2 linked regions of the Homo sapiens genome follow. The protein of the gene in region 2 purifies or fractionates together with the protein of the main gene of each other region. This does not show direct contact. Each region holds a gene or a part of one and is shown on either strand. Other genes may lie near its edges.

Region 1 (4,328 bases), on a different chromosome or scaffold from region 2:
CTCAAGGCTGCTCAGTGACCCTGGCCTGTGGCGTCCGCCTGCAGTTCCCAGCGGGAGCCACCGCCACCCCCATCACCATCCGCTATCGGCTGCTGCTGCCGGAGCCAGGCCTCGTCCCCCTGGGTCCTCATGACGCCCTGCTCAGCCATGTGCTGGAGCTGCAGCCCCATGGGGTGGCCTTCCAGCAGGCATGGACAGGGCGTGGCGGGGGCAGTGTGTGGGCCAGGGCATGGCAGGGGCAGTGTGCGGGCCCGGGCATGGCTCCAGTGCTCACACCATCCTTGTCTGGCAGGATGTGGGGCTGTGGCTGCTCTTCACCCCACCGCAGGCCCGGCGCTGCCGTGAAGTGGTGGTCAGGACCCGGAATGACAACAGCTGGGGTGACCTGGAGACCTACCTGGAGGAAGAGGCACCCCAGGTGAGGGCCACCCAGGCCTGCCGGTGGCGAGTGGAGAGCTGCTGCCCTGAGCCGTGCACCTCTGCCCAGAGCCTCACCCTGGCACCTTCCACCCTGCCCCGTCCCTCCTGGATCCTGCTTCCCTATGTCCCTGGCACCTTCCACCCCACCCCGTCCCTCCTGGATCCTGCTTCCCTGTGTCCCTGGCAACTTCCACCCCACCCCGTCCCTCCTGGATCCTGCTCCCTGTGTCCCTGGCACCTTCCACCCCGCCCCGTCTCTCCTGGATCCTGCTCCCTGTGTCCCTGACTGGCTGTGCCCTGACCCAGGCTCCTGTGACCTCCTCTCTCCCCCATCCCAGCGGCTCTGGGCTCACTGCCAGGTGCCCCACTTCTCCTGGTTCCTTGTGGTTTCCCGCCCTGTGTCCAATGCCTGCCTGGTGCCACCGGAGGGGACACTGCTGTGCTCCTCGGGTCATCCTGGGGTCAAAGTCATCTTCCCCCCTGGGGCCACTGAGGAGCCTCGTCGAGTCTCCATGCAGGTATGGCCAGGACAGCACTGAGGGTGGCAGGCCGCGCCTCAGCCCACAGGCAGGTGCTCAGGGGGCCTGTCTGCCCCAGGTGGTGCGCATGGCTGGCCGAGAGCTGCAGGCCCTCCTGGGAGAACCAGAGGCTGCAGTGAGCCCCCTGCTGTGCCTGTCACAGAGCGGTCCCCCCAGCTTCCTCCAACCGGTCACCGTGCAGCTGCCTCTGCCCTCTGGCATCACAGGTGAGAGGCAGCCATGGGGCATACCTGGACCTGTGGCCATAGGGTGGAGGGGGTCTCCGGCCAGGAGGCCTCAGCTCGCTGCCCCTCCCATCCCCAGGCCTCAGTCTGGACCGCTCCCGCCTGCACCTGTTGTACTGGGCCCCTCCTGCAGCCACCTGGGATGACATCACAGCTCAGGTGGTCCTGGAGCTCACCCACCTGTACGCACGCTTCCAGGTCACACACTTCTCCTGGTCAGTGCCCCCCAGCTTTCTCAGCCCCCCTCCCCCAGTCTGTACAGCCCTCCTCACCCCCAGCTCTCCCAGGTACTGGCTCTGGTACACCACCAAGAACTGTGTGGGAGGCCTGGCTCGGAAGGCCTGGGAGCGGCTGCGGCTGCACCGTGTGAACCTCATCGCTCTGCAGCGGCGCCGGGACCCTGAGCAGGTCCTGCTGCAGTGCCTGCCCCGAAACAAGGTGGGGGCACGGGCCGGAGGGCAGCAGGGTGGTGACCAGAGGGCTGGGGTGGGGTGCAGAGCTTTGGGTCCTGAGCTGCACGGGCTTCCCCGCAGGTGGACGCCACCCTTCGGCGGCTGCTGGAGCGGTACCGGGGCCCCGAGCCCTCTGACACGGTGGAGATGTTCGAGGGCGAAGAGTTCTTTGCGGCCTTCGAGCGCGGCATCGACGTGGATGCTGGTAGGGATGCTGGTGGATGCTCCCTGCCCTGGAGGGGGAGCCTTACCGTCCTCCCCGAGCCCTCCTTGCTCAGCCCACCCCTGTCCCCTAGACCGCCCTGACTGTGTGGAGGGCAGAATCTGCTTTGTCTTCTACTCGCACCTGAAGAATGTGAAGGAGGTATACGTGACCACCACTCTGGACCGGGAGGCTCAGGCTGTGCGGGGCCAGGTGGGCGAGGGGAGTGGGTGAGGGGAGAGGCCCCCCAGGCCGCTTGGGCAGAGGACCGAACTCCGAACCCCATTCGATGCCCCTTCAGGTGTCCTTCTACCGTGGCGCGGTGCCTGTGCGGGTGCCCGAGGAGGCTGAGGCTGCCCGGCAGAGGAAGGGCGCAGACGCCCTGTGGATGGCCACTCTGCCCATCAAGCTGCCGGTGGGACTGAGGGACAGCAGAGGGGCGGGGCAGGACCGAGGCCCAGGGGTGACCAGGGTGACATGGTGGAGTTGGGGGTGGAGCCCAGGGCTTAATGCACTTTTTCCTTCCAACAGAGACTTCGAGGGTCCGAGGGGCCACGGCGGGGGGCTGGCCTCTCCTTGGCACCCTTGAATCTGGGAGATGCCGAGACCGGCTTTCTGACGCAGAGCAACCTGCTGAGTGTGGCTGGGCGTCTGGGTCTGGACTGGCCAGCCGTGGCCCTGCACCTGGGGGTGTCCTACCGGGAGGTGCAGCGCATCCGGCACGAGTTCCGGTGAGGCTCCCACTGCCCGCTGGCTGCCAGCCCCAGGGCTGAGCCCTGGCTGCCTGGAGGGCCCACCTGATTCTGACAGAAGTTTCTTCCAGGGGAGGTGGGGGAAGGGCAAACACCAGGCTGGAAAGGAAAGGTCTGGCCGCACCTGGCCCCAGGAGCCGGGAACTCCCCCACACTCCGAGGCAGAGTGTGGTGGGGGGTCCTGGGCAGGTGGACAGGACCCCTCTGTCGCCCATCCTCTGCCTGCAGGGATGATCTGGATGAGCAGATCCGTCACATGCTCTTCTCCTGGGCTGAGCGCCAGGCTGGGCAGCCAGGGGCTGTGGGGCTCCTGGTGCAGGCCCTGGAGCAGAGTGACCGGCAGGACGTGGCTGAAGAGGTGCGCGCAGTCTTGGAGCTCGGCCGCCGCAAGTACCAGGACAGCATCCGACGCATGGGCTTGGCCCCCAAGGACCCCGCTCTGCCTGGCTCCTCGGCTCCACAGCCCCCAGAGCCTGCCCAGGCCTAGGCCCCACAGACTTTTAGGCTGGCCCAGATATTCCCCAGTGGATGGGCAGAGCCCCCACCTTCAAGTCTCTCCAGTGTGTGGGGACGGGTCCCTGTGAGCAACAAAACTGCACTGTTTCTTTCACCTCAGAGCTTGATTTATTTGTTGGATGGAGAAGCCGTTGGAGGGCGGAGGGTGGTGGGGTAGAGGCCTGGCCCCTGCGGGGAGGGAGGCCTGTGTGCACAGGTGCCCCACATCCTGGTCCTGTCCTCTCCCACTGTGCCTGGGGCCTCCTGTGGGTCCTCATCTTCCTGGGAGGGAGGAGCTGTGCTACAAAGTAACCCACATGGGCTACTTTTTTTTTTTTTTTAAATGGAGTTTCTGTCACCCAGGCTGGAGTGCAGTGGCATGATCTCAGCTCACTGCAACCTCTGCCTCCCAGGTTCAAGCGATTCTGCGTCACCCTCTCAAGTAGCTGGGACTAGGGCACTTGCCACCACGCTGGCTAATTTTTGTATTTTTAGTAGACGGGGTTTCACCATGTTGGCCAGGCTGGTCTCGAACTCCTGACCTTAAGTGATCCGCCTGCCTCGGCCTCCAAAAGTGCTGGGATTGCAGGTGTGAGCCACTGCGCCCAGCCCCAAGTGGGGTGCTTTGGATACAAAGTCGCTGTTCGGCGGGTGGGGTTGTGCCTCCACTTCTCCATTGCGCTGGCCCAGCAGTTCCACGGATCACCTGTGTCTGCCCTGGAGGCCACGCCTCCCCCAGGGCACCCTCATCCACCGGCGCTCTGCCACCTGCCCGCGCCCCGCGGGTCCTTGTGCCTGCAGGGGCCTGAGGCCCGGAAACCAAGAAAGGACCTTGGGGACGCGCGGCCCGGCCTCTGCGCGCAGAACTGCCACCCTGCCCGGGGGAACCCACGGCCAGGGGGCGGGTGGGCGCGTGGCTGTGGCCTGGCTGGGCGCAGTAGCCTCGACGGCCAGGAGGGGGAGCCGAAGCCCGGAGGAGGCCGAGGGCGGAGCGCGCGCGGCGCCGAGCGGACGCGCCTCCCCGCCTAGGTGCTGGCCGAGCGCGGGGCGGGCAGGCGAGCGCGGCGGCGGCGGCGAGCGTGGTGAGTGTCTGCCCGGCGGCTCCCTTCTGCTGCGCCCATCCGAACGCGGCCGGGCTGCGGGGGCGAGAGGTGCTGCGGCGGCCGAGGGAGGTGACAGCTGCCCGAACAACGTGGCCTGGCGGGCGGGAGGGGGGGTCCTGGACCAGCGGATGCTCCGATCCG
Region 2 (3,626 bases):
TTGCAGTACAACCAACCAGTTTCAGTCCATTTTTCATGCCCTTTTGTCTCCAGTGTTCTGTACCAAATTCTGCTCTATCTGCCGAGGTGCTTCAGCTCACCTCAATCCCCTTCTGCTCTTCCTAGACTGCCATACCCTTCTCTGTATGACTCAACAATATTTCCAGCTCCCACAGCTGTTTCCTACCAAACAAAAAAGTTTTGTTTCTGGTTTGTTATAGGTGGCTCATACCTATAATCCTAGCACTTTGGGAGGCCGAAGCGGGCTGATCACTTGAGGCCAGGAGTTAGAGACCAGCCTGGCCAACATGGTGAAATCCCGTATTTAAAAAAAAAAGTTTTGTTTCCTACCAAAACTTCTGTACAAAGTTCCTACAGAACATTCCATCTCTTGCCAAATTCCATGGCCCATCTGCACCTGCACTTACCTCTCAGGCATATCCTTTAGATACAATGCACCCCCAAAATATCCCAACTTACACAAATTCATTGCTTTGATCTCTTCTATGCTGCACTAGAATTCTCTTACAATCTATGCCCACTCTAGAAGACCTTAAATGCAACCAGGTAAGAAATGGAATTTTACTATCTTCACTCTCCCATCCTTCTATTCCAGCCCAATCTGTTATGGCAGCCTACATCTCATAGTCTAAATAATCAAGAACCAGCACTGTTTGCTAATAACTTCCATTTCATCTGTGAGAAATCCCAGGACTACGCAAACTGAGATGGGCCCACACCTGCATATATTTACAGGATCACAGCAGCAAAATAAGAAGGGTTTTCAGGTCTGGGTATGCCTTGTGAGGTGGTAAGGAATGCTGCAGTGTAAGGGGCTAAGGAAACGAAATCTGTGGGCTTCAGAGGACTGAGTATCTACAGAAACAGATATTGAGCACACATCAGTAATAAATATGAGCATTTATTTGGCACCCGATGGCAATACAAAATCCTGGCAGTGGGAGTGGAAAGGTTCTCTCTCTCAAATACTTCCATACTATGTCGACCCAAAGGCAGGACTTGGCAGCAAGGCTCACAAACCACCCAAACAAATATTTATTGAGCACCTTGACTACTACAGGCCTAGCATTTTGCTAGGGACCATGGGAGATGTGAAGGAAGTTATCTCACACATGATATGTCTTCAAGGAGCTAAAAATGCCAGTGGATAAAAGCAAAACACATGGAAAAACAAAGTACAAATAATAATCCGTGTATATTGTCAAAAGGAACATTTTATCAAAAGGTAGGATTGTAGCTAAGGTTGGCTTGCCTTCTTCCCTCTTTTATTCAACAAACATTTAATGAAGGCCCACTATGTGCCAAGCACTTGGTACATGATGGTGAATAAAACAAACAAGGTTTCTGCCCTCATTTACAGCCTGGTAGGGGAGACAGAAATGAACAAGTAAAAGTAGCATATATATAAACTGCAATAAATGCAATGAGGGGAAAAGACAAGATGTGGTGACAGACACAGAAGTAGACTGCTCAGGGACTGAAGGGCCCGGGAATTGTCAAGACTTGAGGAAGAAGGACACCACCTGAGTCAAGAGTGGTGGGGGTGGAGAGCTGAGAAGGCCCAGGAAAAGGGCAGGAAAGAGCACAAAATTAGAAGCTGAGAGGAGACCACTCGGGCTGGAGCTTAGCAAGAAATCACCATTTAATGAGGTTCAAGGGGAAGGCAAGAACCAGTTCTCATAAACCAAGGTGAAGAGTTTACATTTTAAATGAGGGGTAATAGAAAGCAGAAGGGTTCTAAGCAGGGGGGTGATCAGATTTATATTTAAACAACCAAATCCTGGCCAGGTGTGGTGGCTCATGCCTGTAAGCCCAGCTATTTGAGAGGCTGAGGCGGGAAGATGGCTTGAGGCCAGGAGTTCGAGACCAGTCTGAGAAACATAGTGAGAACTCACCTTAAAAAACAAAAAACAGCAAACAACCAAAAAAAATTAAAAACCAAAACTACTCTGTTATGTGAGAACAGACTGGAGGAAGAAAGAATGGAAGTTTTTTTTTTTTTTTTTTTAAAAAAAGGTCTTGCCCGGGCGCAGTGGCTCACGCCTGTAATCCCAACACTTTGGGAGGCTGAGGTGGGTGGATCATGAGGTCAGGAGATCAAGACCATCCCGGCTAACATGGTGAAACCCTGTCTCTACTAAAAATACAAAAAAATTAGCCGGGCACGGTGGCGGGCACCTGTAGTCCCAGCTACTTGGAAGGCTGAGGCAGGAGAATGGCGTGAACCCGGGAGTTGGAGCTTGCAGTGAGCTGAGATCGTGCCACTGCCCTCCAGCCTGGGCGACAGAGCGAGACTCTGTCTCAAAAAAAAAAAAAAAAAAAAAAAAAGTCTTAAAGAACAGGGAAGTTGGGAAGTTTCAGATAAGCAGGGATAAAGGTTTCTAGGTTGAAAACAATAACATGTATGGCACTGAAATAAAAGCCACATAATATCAAAGGAGAGTTTAATACTGAAAGAGAAAGCAGGAACAAAGAACTACATTACATCTTTGAGCATTTACATGATCCTGTAAAGCAGGATTCTAGACAGATTTGGTGGCAGCAGCCAACAGGATGAAATGAAGGTAAAGAAGGGAGAGATATGAAGCAGGGAGATAAGCTAGGAAGCTTTTCTAGAAATCTAGATATGAAGTGCAGGTTGATTGAATGAAAGTGGGAATAGTAAGGGAGAGAGATGGACGTTTCTCAGGAAGGAAAAAGACAGAGAGGTGGTTACAGAGTCTAGGGAAACACACCATTCTTCCTGGCCTTCTCTGATGCTCCCCACGAGGCTCATTTCAGTAACAAAGCTCAGAGAAACAACCAACGAAAGATCTTTGAGACTTCCATGGGCAAAGATCAATAAGGTACAAATGCAAGGCAATGTTGGCTGACAGGCTGCGGTGCCTTGAGCCCAAACGAGCCAAGAGTGTCCTTCCACTGGGTGGCGCTGCAGTACTGAAGGGAACGCACAGGCCGCTTCTGGACACTGCAGCAAGGTGCGTCTCTAGTCATGTTTGCTTCTTCAGAGCCAAAAGATAATGTCTACATTAAATTTGGACACCTTCCAAACTCTCACTCTAGGACAAAAAGGGCGGAGGATATGAATGAAATAAAAGATAGGAGATGGTCTCTCAGACATCTTAACTAATGTAATAAAAGCAATCACTAAAGTGCCATCTACAAAAGCTGGAACTGAACACAAATATGGGGAATTTATATGCCCTCTCCCCATAACCACACTGTGTTTACAACTTCACTTGTCAGGCTCTTCAACTGCAGCTGAAACATTCCTGGCAATAGGTCCAACCAAGGCTGGCTCTACAGGCAAAGGGCTTCACAGAAAAGGAGCTGGCCTGGAGTCCCACACTCAAAGGCAGAGATGATGGGCACAGGAAACAAGTCTGGGAGATTCCCACATCCCTGAGGGGGCAGAACAGAAACCGTGCATCCTGAAGATCAAAGGCTCTATCACACCTCCTGTGGTCCAGTGGCTTCCACTTGGCGTGGATGATGGGGAGGTGACATCATGTGGGAGGGTGTCCTGGGAACAGGTAGAGGTGGCGGCACAGAGTGCTGCAGTATTCAGACATCTCCTTGCACCGGTGGAATTCTGTGCCAGGAGCA

Evidence for each region. The genes of interacting proteins can lie anywhere in the genome.
Region 1: the proteins of CASP2 (region 2) and PIDD1 purify together in Homo sapiens (affinity purification with western blotting; 5 studies listed by BioGRID and IntAct, with this or other methods). This does not show direct contact.

What each region holds. Positions count from the first base shown.
Region 1 is NC_000011.10:798,055-802,382, reverse strand, and holds the end of PIDD1 (p53-induced death domain-containing protein 1), read left to right. Parts: coding exon 1-188; intron 189-292; coding exon 293-418; intron 419-758; coding exon 759-938; intron 939-1,017; coding exon 1,018-1,165; intron 1,166-1,262; coding exon 1,263-1,398; coding exon of another isoform or gene 1,399-1,470; coding exon 1,471-1,621; intron 1,622-1,716; coding exon 1,717-1,840; intron 1,841-1,931; coding exon 1,932-2,050; intron 2,051-2,138; coding exon 2,139-2,252; intron 2,253-2,368; coding exon 2,369-2,568; intron 2,569-2,817; coding exon 2,818-3,076; 3' UTR 3,077-3,199; downstream 3,200-4,328. Other genes in the region: PANO1 (proapoptotic nucleolar protein 1), read right to left, coding at 4,110-4,328. UniProt on the Homo sapiens protein: Component of the DNA damage/stress response pathway that functions downstream of p53/TP53 and can either promote cell survival or apoptosis.
Region 2 is NC_000007.14:143,304,972-143,308,597, reverse strand, and holds the end of CASP2 (caspase-2 isoform 1 preproprotein), read right to left. Parts: coding exon 3,527-3,626; 3' UTR 902-3,526; downstream 1-901. UniProt on the Homo sapiens protein: Is a regulator of the cascade of caspases responsible for apoptosis execution. Might function by either activating some proteins required for cell death or inactivating proteins necessary for cell survival.